Linked DNA regions of Homo sapiens: all the other regions are reported to be linked to region 1. Evidence: microRNA targets listed by miRTarBase, many of them from high-throughput screens and not tested one by one. Region 1 holds a microRNA gene; each other region holds the end of a gene's coding sequence.

Region 1 (4,447 bases):
TGGTCTCAATCTCCTGACCTCGTGATCCGCCCGCCTCGGCCTCCCAAAATGCTGGGATTACAGGCGTGAGCCACTGCGCCCGGCCTCTGCTGTTTCTTAATAGTCACCCAAGCATGATCCAACTTTGAATCTTAGAAGCCTAGGACCAAACTCAGGAGAATCTTTTTTTTTCTTTTTTCTTTTTTTTTTTTTTTTTGAGACAGAGTCTCGCTCTGTGGCCCAGGCTGGAGTGCAGTGGCACAATCTCGGCTCACTGCAAGCTCCGCCTCCTGGGTTCACGCCATTCTCCTGCCTCAGCCTCCCGAGTAGCTGGGACTACAGGCACCCGCCACCATGCCTGGCTAATTTCTTTTCTTTTTTTTTTTTTCTTTTTGTATTTTTAATAGAGACGGGGTTTCACTGTGTTAGCCAGAATGGTCTGGATCTCCTGACCTCGTGATCCGCCCGCCTCGGCCTCCCAAAGTGTTAGGATTACAGGCGTGAGCCAGCGCAACCGGCCCAGAGGAGAATCTTTTAGTCTTGCCTTTGGGCAAGAATGATCACAGAAAGAGAGCTATTTATCGCATTTTTTTTTTTTTTTTTTTTTGAGACAGAGTTTTGCTCTCGTTGCCCAGGCTGGAGTGCGATAGCATGATCTTGGCTCACTGCAACCTCCACCTCCCGGGTTCAAGCAATTCTCCTGCCTCAGCCTCCCAAGTAGCTGAGATTACAGGCTTGCACCCCCATGCCCAGCTAATTTTGTATTTTTATTAGAGTCAAGGTTTTGCCATGTTGGTCAGGCTGTTCTCGAACTCCTGACCTCAGGTGATCCACCCACCTCGGCCTCCTAAAGTGTTGGGATTACAGGTGTGAGCCACCATGTCCGGCTATCCCTTTTCAAAAAAAAAAATTATCCAGAGAAGATGATTGACTGGGCAAGAAAGATGCTCCCCAGTGGCTAGGTGTGGTGGCTCATGCCTGTAATCCCAACACTTTGGGAGGCCGAGGCTGGCAGATCACCCGAGGTCAGGAGTTCGAGACCAGCCTGGCCAACATGGTGAAACCCAGTCTCCACTAAAAATACAAAAGCTAGCTGGGCATGCTGGTGCATGCCTGTAGTCCCAGCTACTTGGGAGGCTGAGGCAGGAGAATTGCTTGAACCGGGAGACGGAGGTTGCAGTGAGCTGAGATAGTGCCACTGCACTCCAGCCTGGGCAACAGAGTGAGACCCTGTCTCAAAAAAAAAAAGAGGCCGGGCACGGTGGCTTACACCTGTAACCCCAGCACTTTGGGAGGCCGAGGCGGGCAGATCACCTGAGGTCAGGAGTTCAAGACCAGCCTGGCCAACATGGTGAAACCCCGTCTCTACTAAAATACAAAAATTAGCTGGGTGTGGTGGCAGGTACCTGTAATCCCAGCTACTCAGGAGGCTGAGGCAGGAGAATCTCTTGACCCTGGAAGGCAGAGGTTGCAGTGAGCCGAGATTACGCCACTGCGCTCCAGCTTGGGCAACAGAGCGAGACTCCGTCTCAAAAAAAAAAAAAAAGATGCTCCCCAGAGATAACCAAGTGCCCATCACCTGTCCTGTTCTCAGGGAAGCAAGTAAGTGCCTGTAACAGACGGGTTATTTATGACCCTGGGCAAAAATCTCCTAATCCTGATAATCTTCAGTTTCCTCACCTGTAAAAATTGGGAAATTTTATATTTATACATTTGTTGTGATGTTTACATTAGAGAATTTGTGTAAGGAAGTGCCTGGCATGTAGGAAGTAGGAATATTTCCTTCCCTTTTACTAATAATAAACTTTTGGATCAGTGTTGGGCACATACTAGGAGTTCAATAAATTATTGAAAAAGAGATGATCTACAGCACAAAAGTCGCTCACTTGGATACAAAAAAAAATACCCAGTGAAGAGGCCTACATGAAAATCCACCATGCCTTTCCTGGTCTGAGAGCTTTCGTCCCTGACAGATTATTCAAACTTCATTTTGTGGAGAGACCAGAGCCACACATCCAAACTCTGAAACAGTAACCAGTGGCACAGTCAGCAGGAGGACTCCCACTGACCTCCCTGCATCACATCCATGCATTCCTTGGCCCCATGCAGTGTCATGCCCACTTAATTCACTGAGTTCCAATTTGGGTCTCAAAATATATTAAAGGGAGATTTTAATAACGAAGCAGATCTGTGCATCCAGCGGATGTTCCTGTGTTCCTTTTGGACTCAGATATTTCTGAACAGCTTTTTCTGGTGAGGGACTAAACTTCCCTTCCTCCCCGGAGCCAGGATGCAGCTCAAGCCACAGCAGGGTGTTTAGCGCTCTTCAGTGGCTCCAGATTGTGGCGCTGGTGCAGGTCTCCTCATACGTAACCAATGGCTCCTGAGAGCCTGCGACTCGTAAATTACTTCCCACGATGCCGGCGACCACCGCAGAATTCAAGTTTGAATAGAGCAGGGAAAAGGTGTTTGAAAGGCCTGTTCACTCAGCTGCATTTTAATTTCCTTTTCAATCTTGTCCCAATTAATTTCACAGAATTAATCTCACAGAAGCAAACTCGGCAGCATTGAGGCTGTGGTTTTAGCGTGGCGGTCGCTCTGCCTGAACATGAAATAGGAGCTAATATAAAAATCCATCTGCTGTGTTTGAAATACACGCCGGCTGCTGCTCAGTCCTGTCTGACATTCCAAACATCAACAGTGGGGAAAAGTGATTTGGGGGTTAGTGGCCATCAGTACTTGGCAGGGGTTCAACAACAGGTGTACTCCAAAAATCCATTCGGCCTGGGCACCAGGCATGACAGGGCAGGTGCCGAATCACCCTCCGTGTGATAGTGTGGTGCCCTGGCTTAGTTCCTTTTATCTGCAGATTGCAAGACCCTTTTGTGGACCAGCACCACTGTGGTCACTTGTTTTTGTTTCTGTTTTTCTTGAGACGGAGTCTCTCTCTGTTGCCCTGGAATGCAGCGGCGCGGTCTCGGCTCACTGCAACCTCTGCCTCCCGGGTTCAAGCGATTCTCCTGCCTCAGCCTCCTGAGTAACTGGGACTACAGGCAAGTGCCACGGCACCCAGCTAATTTTTGTATTTTTAGTAGAGACGGGATTTTGCCATATTGGCCAGGCTGGTCTCGAACTCCTGGCCTCAGGTGATCCATCTGCCTCGGCCTTCCAAAGTGCTGGAATTACAGGTGTGAGCCACTGTGCTTGGCCTATGGTCACTTGTTATAAGTGGGAGAAAAAGAGGTAAGAAGCCTCTATTTGGATAAGACAAGTCACAAGTCCTAGCTTTCAGAAAAGTGACCCTGTCTTCTTGGCTCCAGTGTCTCTCACTAGGGAACATTCTTTCCAAATAATAATAATGCTTGTTGGCAGGGCGTGGTGGCTCACCCAGCACTTTGGGAGGCCGAGGCAGGTGGATTGCCTGAGGTCAGGAGTTCGAGACCAGCCTGGCCAACATGGCAAAACCCCATCTCTACTAAAAATACAAAAATTAGCCAGGCATGGTGGCGCGTGCCTGTAGTCCCAGCTACTAGGGAAGCTGAGGCAGGAGACTCGCTTGAACCCGGGAGGCAGTGGTTGCAGTGAGCCAAGATCATGCCATTGCACTCCAGTCTGGATGACAGAGCGAGACTCCATCTCAAGAAAAAATAAAAATCATCATCATCATCATCATCATCATGCTTGTTCCACTATTCAAGATAACTTTTTTTTTTTTTTGAGACAGAGTCTTGCTCTGTCACCCAGACTGCGAGACTGGAGTACAGTGGCACAATCTTGGCTCACTGCAACCTCTGCCTCCTGAGTTCGAGCGGTTCTCCTGCCTCAACCTCCCTAGTAGCTGGGATTACAGGCTCAAGCCACCACACCTGGCTAATTTTTTGTATTTTTAGTAGAGATGGGGTTTCACCATGTTGGCCAGGCTGGTCTTGAACTCCTGGCCTCGAGTGATCTGCCTGCCTTGGCCTCCCAAAGTGCTGGGATTACAGGTGTGAGCCACCACGCCCAGCCAAGATAAGACTTAAACGCCCATTTTTTTTAAAAGCATCCTGTTCCATAAGTTATTTATGGTGGTAACATGAGCTGTTCAGAAGATAAGGACAAATTAAAGAGGGAAAGAGAAGCTCTTTTTCAATTGACTAGGAAGGAGAAGAGGCCACTGGGTGAGATCTTCCATTTAAGGTAAACTGAGCCAGTGTACATCTCTTGGGCTTGGGTTGTGTGCCTCATAAATTGGTCTGAGGCTCTTCCAAGGAATTGTCCAGTGCCTTATTTCCATGGAAAGCAGCCTTGGAGCAACAAGTTGGGTACGCATAAGATTTATACTTACACGGTGGCTTAGCTGGGGTGGGAAGGTATTCTCATGGCCCAGACACACCAGGGTCTGGGTCATCTTCCTTGCTGATGGAATTGATGTGGAAACAGGGAGCCATACAGACAAAGTCAAGTTTAGCGTGGAACACGTGATGCT
Region 2 (3,000 bases), not on the chromosome of region 1:
CATAAGAAGTACCATGGATCCCAGGTCTATGTCACCTTCGCCGTTAGCTTCTACCTGGTGGCAGGAGCTGGTGGAGCCTCAATCCTGGCCACGGCAGCCAACCTCCTGCGCCACTACCCCACAGAGGAAGAGGAGCAGGCGCTGGAGCTGCTCTCAGAGATGGAAGAGAACGAGCCCTACCCGGCGGAATATGAGGTCATCAACCAGTTCCAGCCACCCCCTGCTTACACACCCTAATGCCAGCCCTGGGCTCTCTTCCTCGGCAGCCCCTCCCTCAACTCTGCAGCTCCTCTCGCACCCAGAGGAGCTCCTTTCCCCAGCAGGCCTCACTGGTAGGATCCTGACCATCTTCTCCAAACCTTCCCCAGGAGAGACTCTGCCTTTAGGGTCATCCAAGTATCCCTGCTCTCAGAACCGGAGGTCCACTGGTTTTCTATAATGTACTCTTTCCCTCCTGCCACATCCTGCCCCCTTCACATTCACGAGTCATTACCAGCCAGGGAAGGTCATCCAAGTTTCCTCCAGCATGGGCGATATCTTTGGGACCGAGACTTTCCTTGGAGAGCTGCTGAGAGCGGACAGTCCCAAAAACAAGTGTCAAAGGGCCCAAGGGAAAGGGGACTGTGCCCTGGAGGCTCACTTCACAGGGATCAGTGTTTGCTCCACAGCTGTAGCTCTGGGCTGACGCCCCCCAGACCCCTTCCTTCTCGGAGTGACCCGCCCCCAGGCCACCTGCTCCGGGGAGTTCTGTGCACTTTACTCTTTGGACTTCTCCTCACGTGTGCCCTGGTTTTATGGGGAGAGGGAATCGCTGTTGGGAAGGCAGAGCAGTTGCAACCCTCTCTGCCCTTGCTTCATGTGGCTGGAGCCCAGGCAAGGAGAGCAGGAGCCAGCGTGAGACTGAGGCCCCCTGGTGCCTATCAAGGACCAGAGTGAAGGGGACTACATCTCCCAGCCCTTCACCTTTTAAATATGAGTGGTTTTAAAAGGAAAAAAATGAAACCAGGCAACAGCAACAATATTCTGTTTTTAAAATAGGGACAAGACTGTTGTCACTTTTTAGACATGTATCCCATTCCTTTTGGCTCTGCAATATTTGGGGCTGTAGCTCCTTCCAAGCCCATGGTAGTCCCTCCCCGAGTCTCTCCCAGTAGAATGCAGCCTCCCTTCCCTGGCCCCTTCCCTCTCAGTGACGGTGACTCCCTGGGGCCTTCTCGTGGAACCCAGAGGGGCTGAGGACTGTGGCCTGGCTGGCGGGCCAGCGTGGTGCTCCTCAGGACTGCAGCACTGAGATGGAACCTGGCCTCAGTTTAGGAACAGGGGCCACAACAGGGCAGGAACCCACCACCCTCCACATAGGAATACAACCAGTGGGGCCACATCATGTGAGGCATCAGACCCACACTGTCAGCCCAGCAGGCCGGGCTGTGTCCTTCAGACCCAGTGCTGCCCTAGACTCTGACTCGGGACTCCAGCTTGCCACGTGCCCTCTCCCCTCTTGAATGTACTCTGGTCTTGCAGTGTGCTGCTGGGACTTTCTTGCTCAGCCATCACTCTGGTCACCTTGTTTGCTCTGGGTCTGGCTGAATTTTCTGCCCTGAGATCTGGGCATAAAGTGGATGAAACTTGAAAGACCTTCAGTGTAGATCCAGATGGCCAACCTGTCCTTGTTAAGTTACTTGCTTCTTGGGAATCAGTGTCCCCTGCTGAGCTGAAAAGGAAATGGATTCCAATCTCTTCCAACCTTTAAGGTGATAGATAGTTTGAGCAAGACTGGAGAATGGACAACACTATGAAGCTGTGGCTAGAAAGGGACTGTCATGTCCCATCCTTTGGCCAGATTGACTGGGGATGTCCGGACAGATGCCTGCATGGGTGGTGAGGGCCACATCTGCACACGAGCCAGTGGCTGCTTGCAGTTCACTGCTGTGATGCCAGAGTGTGTTCAAAGGTGACTCTCCTGCTCTTCTGGACTCTTCTCTCAGGCAAGAAAGGCTGCAGGCTGCCTGCTATGTGATGCCTGAGCACAAAGCCAAGGAACTGAACTAAGTCTTTCTGTTAAGTCCTGAGTTTGTCATTGGCAGGTTTACTTGTGGCCAGCTCTCTCTGCCCTTGGGTGTCTGAGCAGGCAGACCAGAAGACCAGGCACTGGACCTGCATGCCAAAGGGACTGGTCATCTCCTGAGGACCTGTAAATGACCCTGTGGACTGTTCCGCACGATCCGGAACCCACTTTTTATTCACTCCCCATGTCTTTGGCCTTCCTCTTCTTTCTCTTTCCCTCTGCCATCCTGACACTGATAGTTTGTCATATAAATTCCCCGGGTTGTGTTTTTTTTTCTAGAAAAAAATTAAAAGGGAAAACAAAACCAAAAAAACCAGAAACCACGAATAAGAATGGAAATGACAATGGCTGCCTGTCATTTTTCTGTCACGATTTTCCTGATTTGGTTTGTTCCCTTTGTCTCAGAGAAGCAGGAGATGTTGATGAGGCTGTATTTTTTTTTCTTTTTCTTGTTTTTGAGACAAGAGTCTCGCTCTGTCACCCGGGCTGGAGTGTAACGTGGCATGATCTCAGCTCACTGCAACCTCTGCCTCCTGGGTTCAAGCGATTATCCTGCCTCAGCCTCCTGAGTAGCTGGGATTACAGGCATGCGCCACTATGCCCAGATAATTTTTTTGTATTTTTAGTAGAGACAGGGTTTCACCATGTTGGCCAGGCTGGTCTGGAACTCCTAACCTCAGGTTATCCACCCACCTTGGCCTCCCAAAGTGCTGGGATTATAGGCATGAACCACCGTGCCTGGCCAAAGATGTAATTTAAAATAGTTAGAAGGGACTTGGCATGGGCCAGCTCCGTGCATGGCATTTTCACCCCCAGAGCTTCCTAATCCTGTTTTCACACAGGAAGTTTCTAGGTCTTTCTAGAACAGCTAGAAATAGTAGCTGACTCCCGCCCAAGGCCCAACCTTCAAACCCTGAGCTCTTCAGGCTGCATCC
Region 3 (3,000 bases), not on the chromosome of region 1:
TCATTTTTCTTACTACATAAAACTAGTGCCTTTTTGATAGGCCAAGTCCCAGGAAGGACAGACATTGTTCTTACCATTCCAACTCTCACTGAGGGTGGAAGAGAAACCCTCTGTCTGTAGTTTCAGGTTCCCAGATCCTTCATATATATATATATATATATATATATATATATATATATATATATATATATATATATATATTTATATTTACATATATATATATTTATATTTACATATATATTTTTATATATATTTATATATATATTTATATTTATATATATTTATATATATAATTTTTTACAGTCCAGAGATCTTTTATTAACACTTATTATGCCATGAATTCATACGGAATAAGTTCCAGCAGCTCAGGCTCCTTCCCATTGGTTCTCACAAAGTGTGCTTCTCTGGGTGGAGCAGGCTGGCACTTCAGTTGAACCCAGGTAACTTTCTCTCTTTTTTTTTTTTGGAGACGGAATCTCGCTGTCACCAGGCTGGAGTGCAGTGGCGCGATCTCAGCTCACTGCAACCTCCGCCTCCCAGGTTCAAGCGATTCTCCTGCTTCAGCCTCCTGAATAGTTGGGACTACAGGTGTGCGCTACCATGCCCAGATAATTTTTGTATTTTTAGTAGAGACAGGGTTTTACCATATTGGCCAGGATGGTCTCGATCTCTTCACCTCGTGATCTGCCCGCCTGAGCCTCCCAAAGTGCTGGGATTACAGGCGTGAGCCACCATCCCTGGCAAACCCAGGTACCTTTCTCTTTGGCTTCTTTTTTTTTTCTGATCATTTTCCTCATGCATTTCAGGAAGCTATCTCGGCTCTTAGAGTGCTTCATGTGCTCAGTATGCACATTAATGCTCTTGGCAAGAATATTGCCCTTGTTTATTTACAACAATGCCAACAGCATGCTGGGTAACACTGTAGACTCTTCCAGTTTTGCCATGGTAACACTTGTGGGGCATTCCTTTTTGAACAGTACCCATTCCCTTGATGTCTACAATATCACCTTTCTTATAGATTCGCATATACGTGACCAAAGGAACAACTCCATGTTTTCTAAAAGTCCTAGAGAACATATATCGGGTGCCTCTCCTCTTTCCGTTTGTGTTCATCATTTTGGCAAATTACTGGAAGATGGGGGTTCTGGCCAAAAGGCTGTGTATCTTATATATGTATGTATATTCAATACTTGAAATAATTTTTGTTACAAAGAGCTAGTGTCATCAAATGCTAATTCACAGAATGTGGCCTGAATTTTATTTTACTGATACCATTTATCTTAAAATAACTCTTCTGATATCCACTTAGAGCATCTCCAAACTGGTATTAGAACCCAACCCTCAGTACTAGTGGAGCTTGAATTCCTTTCCATGGGTCCCATGTTTTTGGCTTGGATACAGAAACTTCTAAGTGGAGCTACAAAGTGAAAATATGAAGCTGCAATTCTAAAAAGCCGCACAGTCAACTTCTGTGCAACAATACATCAAATAACCTAGTGTTTTCTATGTGGCTGACCATAGGAACTGAAAGTGTTATTAGAACTGAGGACAATTATAATGGCTTTCTGCTTAGACACATCACACCATGATTTAGAACAGAATAAGGAAGGGAAATAAATCTAAAACAGAGTAAGAGAAAAAGAATGTTATCCCCTCTCTCAAAATAAAGTGTGAATGGAGGGCACGGAGTATATTTAGTTTCAGTTAATGCTATAACAGAATACCATAGACTGGTGGTTTATCAACAACAGAAATTTATTTCTCACAATTCTGGAGGCTGAGAAGTCCAAGATCAAGGTGCTTACAGATTTGTTTTCTGGTGAGGACCCACTTCCTGGTTCGTGGATGTTTGTCTTCTCCCTTTCACATGGCAGAAGGGGTGATGGAGCTCTCTGGGTCTCTTTATATAAGGGCACTAATCCCATTCATGAGCGCTGTTACTCTCCTGACCTATCACTTACCAAAAGCCCCACCTCCAAATACCATCACATTGGAAATGAGATTTCAACATTAGAATTCTGGGGGCACACAAACATTCAGTCTACTGCAGACATTAAATAAGAATCTAGGGTAAATTCTAACAAAGAATACATTTGAGTTAAAGAGTGAAACATAAGACTTTAAGAAAGAAGGAACAGTGAAAATATTCTTTAGAATGAAAATGATAGTATTTATGTACTGAAAATATGTCCTTGACAGTAGTCATTGGGTTTGAAGTAAGTATGGTAGCATAATCTCCTAAAAGAACATTTCTGATACAAAAAGGAATTAATATTGTGCGGAAAAGGCATGTTCCACTCTCCCCCAGTCATACCCCAAGTTTGCACTCTTTGCTATTCCTGCCTTTAACCCCTTCTAATTTCTTTTCAATGAAACCACTGAGAAAGTAGGAAACAGAAAATGGTGGTAGTGAACCAGATATAAAAAAAAACTTCCAATGAAGAACTTAATAAATAACTTTAAAAAGAACATTTTTATACTCTAGCCATTATCATAGTACTTGGTAAATACGGGTATGTTGGCATCTTTTTCCTTGACCCATCAGAAGTCTTGAAAGATGTGGTCCTCCGGAGTTTCAAAGTGTTTTATTTATTGAAGAATGAATTTCACTACTAACCTTATTTCTTTCATATTCTACTGGCTATTTTACCAATATAAATTTAGTCTTCATAAATAAAAAAAATATGTTTTCATAGCAGCAAGTCTACGTCCATTATTGTGAAGTTTGCTTTCAAGGAGATTTCGTGTTCCATCATGAATTAAATTATCTGCTCCCTAAGTAACTTCATTTGCAAAATGTCAATAAAGTTCATAGCTCTCTATTAAAATTCGAGCCACTCTGTCATGTAAATACAGTTAGATGGTGAAATCTCACCACCTTCGTGGCAGTCATCAAAAACCTTTAAAAAAGAAAAAAAAATTATATTCAAATTAAAGTTTTAAAATATCTAAGACCCAACCACTTATTTAAAGCAAGATTAAAAACAAAACTTTCAAACT

The links. Region 1 holds the annotated microRNA hsa-miR-1203 (CCCGGAGCCAGGAUGCAGCUC, at 2,258-2,278, shown strand). A microRNA usually pairs through its seed, bases 2 to 8, with sites in the 3' UTR of a target mRNA and lowers its output. Matches are read on the target gene's strand: a 7mer-m8 pairs with bases 2 to 8, a 7mer-A1 pairs with bases 2 to 7 and ends in A, and an 8mer does both.
Region 2: the mRNA of TMEM127 is a reported target of hsa-miR-1203. Seed matches in the 3' UTR shown: 7mer-m8 at 735-741.
Region 3: the mRNA of POLR3F is a reported target of hsa-miR-1203. Seed matches in the 3' UTR shown: 7mer-A1 at 2,567-2,573.

The regions. Positions count from the first base shown.
Region 1 is chr17:48,154,317-48,158,763 of GRCh38, reverse strand. It overlaps MIR1203 (microRNA 1203), which reads left to right and starts at 2,253; the gene lies at 2,253-2,337. The region is part of intron 11 of SKAP1 (src kinase associated phosphoprotein 1); the gene reads left to right.
Region 2 is chr2:96,251,045-96,254,044 of GRCh38, reverse strand. It overlaps TMEM127 (transmembrane protein 127), which reads left to right. Exons shown (of 4, transcript NM_017849.4): 4 at 1-3,000. The coding sequence ends at 237. Among named protein-coding and RNA genes, the nearest start is that of TMEM127, 13 kb to the left of the region's middle.
Region 3 is chr20:18,483,381-18,486,380 of GRCh38, reverse strand. POLR3F (RNA polymerase III subunit F) reads right to left here. Exons shown (of 9, transcript NM_006466.4): 9 at 1,735-2,900. The coding sequence ends at 2,823. It also overlaps the pseudogene RPL21P3. Among named protein-coding and RNA genes, the nearest start is that of RBBP9, 12 kb to the left of the region's middle.